Linked DNA regions of Homo sapiens. The protein of the gene in region 1 interacts with the protein of each later gene in a pairwise test. Each region holds a gene or a part of one and is shown in the gene's direction. Other genes may lie near its edges.

Region 1 (3,753 bases):
AAATAACACCACATGTCTACAACAATCTAATCTTCGTCAAATCTGACAAAAAACAAGCAATGGGAAAATGATCTCCCATTCAGTAAATGGTCCTGGGAAAACTGGCTAGTTATATGCAAAAAACTGAAACTGGACCCCTTCCTTAGACCTTATACAAAAATTATCTCAAGATGGATTAAAGACTTAAATGTAAAACCCAAAACTATAAAAACCCTAGAAGAAAACCTAGGCAATACCATTCAGGGCATAGGCATGGGCAGAGACAAAAATGCCAAAAGCAATGGCAACAGAAGCCAAAATTGACAAATGGGATCTAATTAAACTAAAGAGCTTTTGCACAGCAAAAGAAACTATCATCAGAGTGAACAAGCAGCCTACAGAATGGGAGAAAATATTTGCAAACTATGCATCTGACAAAGGTCTCATATCCAGAATCCATAAGGAACTTAAACAAATTTACAGGAAAAAGACAAACTACCCCATCAAAAAGTGGGCAAAGGATATGAACAGACACTTCTCAAAAGAAGACATTTATGTAGCCAACAAACCTATGAAGAAAAGCTCACCATCACTGATCATCAGAGAAATGCAAATCAAAACCACAATGAGATACTATCTCGAGCCAGTTAGAATGGCAATTATTGAGAAGTCAGGAAACAACAGATGCTAGAGAGGATGTGGAGAAATAGGAACGCTTTTACACTGTCCGTGGGAATGTAATTAGTTCAACCATTGTGGAAGACAGTATGGAGATTCCTCAAGGATCTAGAACCAGAAATACCATTTGACCCAGCAGTCCCATTACTGGGTATATACCCAAAGGAGTATAAATCATTCTGCTATAAAGACACATACACACATATGTTTATCGCAGCACTGTTTACAATAGCAAAGACATGGAACCCACTCAAATGCCCATCAATGATAGACTGGATAAAGAAAATGTGGTACATATACACCATGGAATACTATGCAGCCATAATAAGGAACAAGATCATGTCTTTTGCATGGACATGTATGAAGCTAGAAGCCGTCATCCTCAGCAAACTACCACAGGAACAGAAAACCAGACACCACATGTTCTCACTCATAAGTGGGAGTTGAACATTGAGAACACATGGACACAAAGGGGAAACAACACACATCAGGGCCTGTTGGGAGGTTGGGGGTGAGGGGAGAGAACTTAGAGGATGGGTCAATAGGTACAGCAAAAGAAAAAAGAAAAACAAATTGACAGAAAAAATGGTAACAAAAATAAAAATAGGATAGTTTCCTTTTGGCTTACCTGAAGTGGCTATTTTAGCTATTAGTTCAAATATTTGTAAATTTTAAAATCTATCAAATTTTCTAGTGACAGCATGTGGAAGAGAAAGTTATTGAAAAGTCAGTTAGCTAATTTTTCAGACTGCAAATCACATATGTAGAATTATGGTTGTCTAGAAGTATGTTGTTTATGTTTATCATCAGTATATTTTTATAAGACAACTCATACATAATTAGAAGTAGTAACGGCTACATAAAATAGAGCATTTTCATTTAAAACAATTCTGATGGGGTAGCATGGAAGGAAGAAAATTTTGGTAGAATTTAGCTGGTTTCTAAGGAAGAGTAGAAGAGAAAACTGCCTCAGAAAAAATGAATAATGTGCCTGCAGTTTTAAACCTGAGTCTGAATACGTACATTTTGCTTAGAGCTGTGTGGAATCTGGGAAGCAAGTCTGTGTTTTCACTTTATGCACTGTTGGTTCTATTAATGAAAGCCACCAGGTGACTGGCAGTTTTCGGAGTCAAAGAAGCCTGTGTGTAGGATCTAGGGAGTCAGGTTTGAAAAAAAGATGTCAGCGACTTAAGACCCGTGTCACGTGACTCCCTCTACTTGCCAGCACTGAGGCTGTGGATCAAATTTCAACTCCAGGCAGTCCTTCCAGCCATGTGGGTTCAGCGGAAAGAGAAGCAAAACCACTCTTCCTAAAATGTTAGAAGCTGCTCTTCGCTTACCTTGGGGCCTTTGCATTGGGAGCTGTTTTTCACATCAAAGAATATGTGCTGAATGGAATTTTAGTATTTTGCTGTCGTTTTAATATTTTCGTCTGGTCTTCCTCAGTTCTTCCAGACGCTTTCTGAGAGAATGGGGGCAGGAGCTCTAGCCATCTGTGTAAGTATAGGCCTTCTTCTGTCTTCTGTGTTTACTGCCAGTTTTTAGGAGAGGGCCTTGCCTTCCTTGTTTTGATGAGATGTTTGTGTAACTTATTTTTCCTTCCCAGGAGGTGGGGAAAGATTTGTTACTTAAATTCCTATCTACTTAAATGGGTATTAGGCAGGATTTGGGATGGCATTCAGCATATTTGTGCACTTTAGTTTCCAAAAAAGGTGAAAGATGCATGCTGATTTATTCCGTTAAGTCAACTTGATTTAAAGTAGAGCACTTTCAAGCATTTTAGACTTTCTTGTCCCTGAATAGTTAAACATGAATGCTTCATTATAGCTATTAGAGAAATCTTGTGGCTAGCTTGAGGAGGAATTGAAGTAACCATTAATTTATTACTTTTGAGTATGTGTGTGACATTTTTCTGTTTTATATTTCTATTTTCGTTTAGTAATTCTGGAGTTTCTGTTTCAGCATGATTGCTGAAAGTGATGGTGGAGAAGCTCAGTTGATAAATGTTTGTGTATCCTTAAACTGTAGAAATGAATGGTTGTTATAACACAGTAGCATTAATAAATAACACTGAAATAAAATCCTTGGGAAAATGTGCATATTTCTGGAGTTTTAGAATTTTTAGAATTTATGAATTTCTAAATTATTCTGCTGGTGCTTGTACAAAACCTTTTGTAATAATCAAAAATTGTCAATTATATAATTTGCAGAATGCTGTAATTTAAATTTTGATTGTACTATATAGAAAATGCATATATCTGTATGAGAATTACACATATTTATGTTTCAAGTTGCTATTGTATTCCATAGGGACATTTTATTTTCTAGAATGTATTAAATGAGAAATATCTTCTTCCTTATTATCACCTTAACTGCTCACTTAAAAAATCACACTCAGGCCAGATCCTCTTTTTTTGTGTGTGTTTCAGAAAGAGCTGCAATTTGCTGTAGCTTCTGATGGCATTCTGAAGTGTTTAGAAATATCTGAGCAATTTTTGACACACAGACACCAAATGGTCACCAAATGGTCACCAAATGGTAGACCAGCCCTATAGATTAAGTTTTCTTAGTGAAACTGCAGGATGACCTTGTTTCCAGGCTCAAAACTTTTCAGCACCATGTATGTCACTCTGTCTTCCTTTTAACTCTGAGGCTTAGTAGCATCCAGGTATCCATGTGGTTATTCTTTTTTTATCACCCCAAAGAGTTTCCTTCAAAATCTGATTTATCTATGTGTAAAATACTGACTTTTACTTTACTGCAGAGGTGGCCCTTCTATTTTTCTAGCTTTATAAAAGAAACAATACAGAACTGAAAATGTGTAGAATGAGGCAGCAGATAGGTCATGAAGATTGGTAGTCATCTCTGATTGTCTGATTAGATCTTTACTTCTTTCCCTTGACCTGCAATATATTGATCTCTACCTTGACTGGAATGCACACTGACTCATGTATAAAACTTTATATTTTCCCTTAATTTATATCCAAAGCATGTATAAAATTTCAGTTAAAGTTGACATAAAAATCACACAGTGTAAGAGATTATTCACTCTGGTAGATGAGTAATTCTCAATCATTTCTACCCTTCTCCTTAAGG
Region 2 (3,753 bases), on another chromosome or scaffold:
CCCTGTGTAAATATTGCTCTTGTCACAGGGAAGGCGCCTTGTTTTTCCAGCCCTCCTGCTCCCAAGCCTTTCCCTAAATATCCATTCTGAGATTACACAGCTGCAGTGTGCATGGAATGAAAAGGTATCTGTGCTTGGCCGCCAGAGCGCCCAGTATCCTGACCTTCTGAACAAAGCAAACCTCCCTCTGTTTTTAATGGGTGAGTTTGCTGTATCTCTTGGCTCAAGCTTTAAATGGTCCATTCTGTAGATTTTGGAGTAGGGGAATGTGGAGAATTTGGGGCGGGACCCTGCTGGAGGCGGCTTGAGAGGCTGGGAGATAGACCAGGGAGCTCCAGATTCTTTGGAGCCGCTGAGCAATTTTCCTAATGAAATGGTCCAGGAACCCCAGTGTGCTCGGGGTATACCAGAAGGGCCTCCTTCCTTAACTGCCTTGAAGAACAAGCAGTGCTGCGTTTAACATGCATTAAACTCACAGGAACTGAGCTGGACATATTTGAGGGGGTGGGGGAAGACCGCCACGCCCAGAGATGTTTTGTGGTGTCAGATACAGGTTATAGCTAGAGGCAGTGGTGAGAGACTTCTGCTTGTGGATTTTTTTCCTTCCATCTTCTCTCAGGTAAGTGCTTTAGCTCCAAGTTGGACAGACTTTATGTTTAAATCCCAGTTCTGCTGGTCCCCAGCTGTGTGACTCCAGATGAATTATCTGACTTCACTGTGCCTCTGCTTCCTTTCCTGTAAAACAGGATTAATAACAGGACCCACCTAATAGGCTTGTTTGGAGCTGTAGAGGAGGTAACAGCCAAGTAGTAGCTCTTGTCCCATAACCCCTGCTTTCTCTTTTCCCACCTCGTCTTCCCTGCCCTTTTGGGCCCTCACAGTCAAGATGAACTGATTTTTGGTTGGTCAAAATATTGCATTAGGGCCAAATGGGTGCGGTGGCTCATGCCTGTAATCAAAGCACTTTGGAAGGCCAAGGCAGAAAGATTGTTTGAGGCCAAGAGTTTGAGACCAGCCTGGGTGACATAGTAAAACTCCATCTCTACCAAAAAAAAAAATTTTTAAAGACGAACTTAGGAATGAAACAGCTTGTTAAAAAATGGTGGAACTTTCCCCTGCAGCCACATCATTTCAACTTCACTTTAAAAATATCTTTTTGGCCTGGCACAGTGGCTCACACCTGTAATCCCAGCACTTTGGGAGGTGGAGGTGGGAGGATCACTTGAGCCTAGGAGTTTGAGACCAGCCCAGGCAACACAGCAAAACCCCATCTCTACAAAAAAATTTAAAAATTAGCCAGGCGTGGTGGTGCATGCCTGAAGTCCCAGCTACTTTGGAGGCTGAGGCAGGAGGATGGCTTGAGCCTGGAAGATTGACGCTGTGGTGAGCTGTGATCATGCCACCGTACTCCAGCCTGGGCAACAGAGGAAGACTTTATCTAAAAAAAAAAATATTAGTAATAAGGCCGGGTGCGTTGGCTCATGCCTGTAATCCTAGCACTTTGGGAGACCAAGGTGGGCAGATCACTTGAGGTCAGGAGCTCAAGACCAGCCTGGCCAACATGGTGAGACCCCATCTCTACTAAAGAAATACAAAAATTAGCTGGGCATGGTGGCGAGTGCCTGTAATCCCAGCTAATCAGGAAGCTGAAGCAGGAGAATCGCTTGAACCTGGGAGGCGGAGGTTGCAATAAGCCAAGATCATGGTACTGCACTCCAGCCTGGGCAACAGAGCGAGACTCTATCTCAATCAATCAATCAATAAAATATCTTTCCTTATCATCACCTTACAGCTGCTTCCTGGATGGACACACTGTCTCCTTGTTGCTCACCTCCCGCTTCTTCCCTACGTAGCCCCAGGCCTCAGAGCTGCTGCTTGAGGGGCTTCTTGGCTGCACAGATTAGATACCATGATGAGGTTGAGATAGTGTTGGGGGTGGACCTTGGGGCAGGAGCCTCAAGAGCTTCCAGGAACAGCTGGGTTGTGTTTGAGAGTTGCACGATAGCAGCTCTTTTGTTTTTATTGATATCCAGAACAATAATTCTTTCTCTGGACTAGGAGCTATAATTAAACCAAAATATTTCCCAGCTGGGGCAGTGTCTAGGGCTCTGGCAGAAGCATAGCCCTGCATGGGGATGCTATGCCAGGCATGCCCCATAGAGGGCACTGTAGCAGGCATGCGCCAGACCTGATGACTGAAGGAGGCTCTCCCTGGGCCAGCTAAGTTGTCTCAGGGCTGCAGTTAGGGGATCTGAGGCAGCTCCACTGCCCATCCAGGGGTCAAGAGATGAGCCTGGCACCAGAGCCATGCAGACATGGTTCAAACCCGGCTCTACCACTTTCTGGTTGTGTAGCGTGACTGGCCCCCTCCCTGAGCCGCAGAGTCATTTGTGAAGCAGGAATCACGGAAAGGATTCCATACCACATGCGTAAATGGTGCTGTGCACAGGACCTGGAGCCGGAGTGGGGTACGCATGCCCCGTCAGCGGGAGCTGCTGTTCTGTTCCTGTGCTTGTTGCTGGAATTCACGGCAAAGTGGGTGGGCTGGCAGGTCACAGTGGCTGCACCCGGTCTGCAGCACAGTGCCTGGGGTGAGGGCTGAGGAGGAAGGGAGGAGATGCTTGGCCTCCCTGGCTTCTCCAAGTCTACCCGGAGAAGAAAGGACAGTCAGAGGGGCCCACGCCTCCCCCACACCCCTGGAGGGAGAGCTGGACTCTGGTGGCTGAAGCAGCACTTCAGGCTCACAGTGTGACTCAGGCTTCTTGCCCTCAGCCACAATGGCTCATGCCCAGAGGAGAGAACAGGGTGTCCAGGCTGTTGGTGCTTGTGGGCGAAATGTCAGCCATGCTCCTCCTGCCTTGGCCTAGAAAAGGGAGCCCCCACCCCGCAGGGCCTGAGGTTCTCTCTGCCAGAAGTTCAGAGCTAGTGCCAGTGGGTTCCCATGCCACCAGGGTGAGCCCTCTGTAAGGGGATCTATGTGTGTCCCTCACCACGGCCTCAGTGCTCCCAGGAAAGCCCTCCAAGTCATCAACACAGCATTTTCTATTCCTTTCTCCCAGGTATCCAGTCGGAATTCTTTATTAACACCACCCGAGCAGGTCCAGGGACATTATCCGTCACCATCGAAGGCCCATCCAAGGTTAAAATGGATTGCCAGGAAACACCTGAAGGGTACAAAGTCATGTACACCCCCATGGCTCCTGGTAACTACCTGATCAGCGTCAAATACGGTGGGCCCAACCACATCGTGGGCAGTCCCTTCAAGGCCAAGGTGACAGGTAACGAACAACCACCTTCGGAGTTACTCTCCCTTCCTGGGGAGCTGGTTGTGTCAGATCAATCATAGTGGAAACTATGGATGGTTTTAGATGTGTTAAAGCTACTTTGAACTTTGAATGTCAGTAAATAGTATGAGATGTCAGAGGGCAGTGTTTGAAACTTACAAAAGTCCACAGAGTGGAGCCGTGCAGAAGTTGAGAAAGCATGTTAGGATGTTAGGTGGTTTTCTATCTCTAACAGGAAAGAATACATATTGAAATCTTACGTATTTGTTTAGATCAGGGTCTGAAAAATCCCCTGATTTCTAATTTTCACTTGAAAAATAATCAAAAAGTTTTCCTATACTTATAAAAATGTGTCTCCTCCAAAACACTGGAAAAAATACCAAACTATGAAAACCACTTCACAGCCACCACCCAAGGTAACCACCATAAACACTGTAGTAAATCCCTTCCACACGTCATGATTCACTGT

What was found. The genes of interacting proteins can lie anywhere in the genome.
Region 2: the proteins of FAM13A (region 1) and FLNB interact in a two-hybrid assay, tested with the Homo sapiens proteins (one study listed by IntAct).

Annotation. Positions count from the first base shown.
Region 1 is NC_000004.12:89,055,339-89,059,091, reverse strand, and holds the start of FAM13A (protein FAM13A), read left to right. Parts: upstream 1-1,906; 5' UTR 1,907-2,127; coding exon 2,128-2,154; intron 2,155-3,753.
Region 2 is NC_000003.12:58,165,381-58,169,133, forward strand, and holds part of FLNB (filamin-B), read left to right. Parts: exon of another isoform or gene 1-735; intron 736-3,059; coding exon 3,060-3,278; intron 3,279-3,753. UniProt on the Homo sapiens protein: Connects cell membrane constituents to the actin cytoskeleton. May promote orthogonal branching of actin filaments and links actin filaments to membrane glycoproteins. Anchors various transmembrane proteins to the actin cytoskeleton.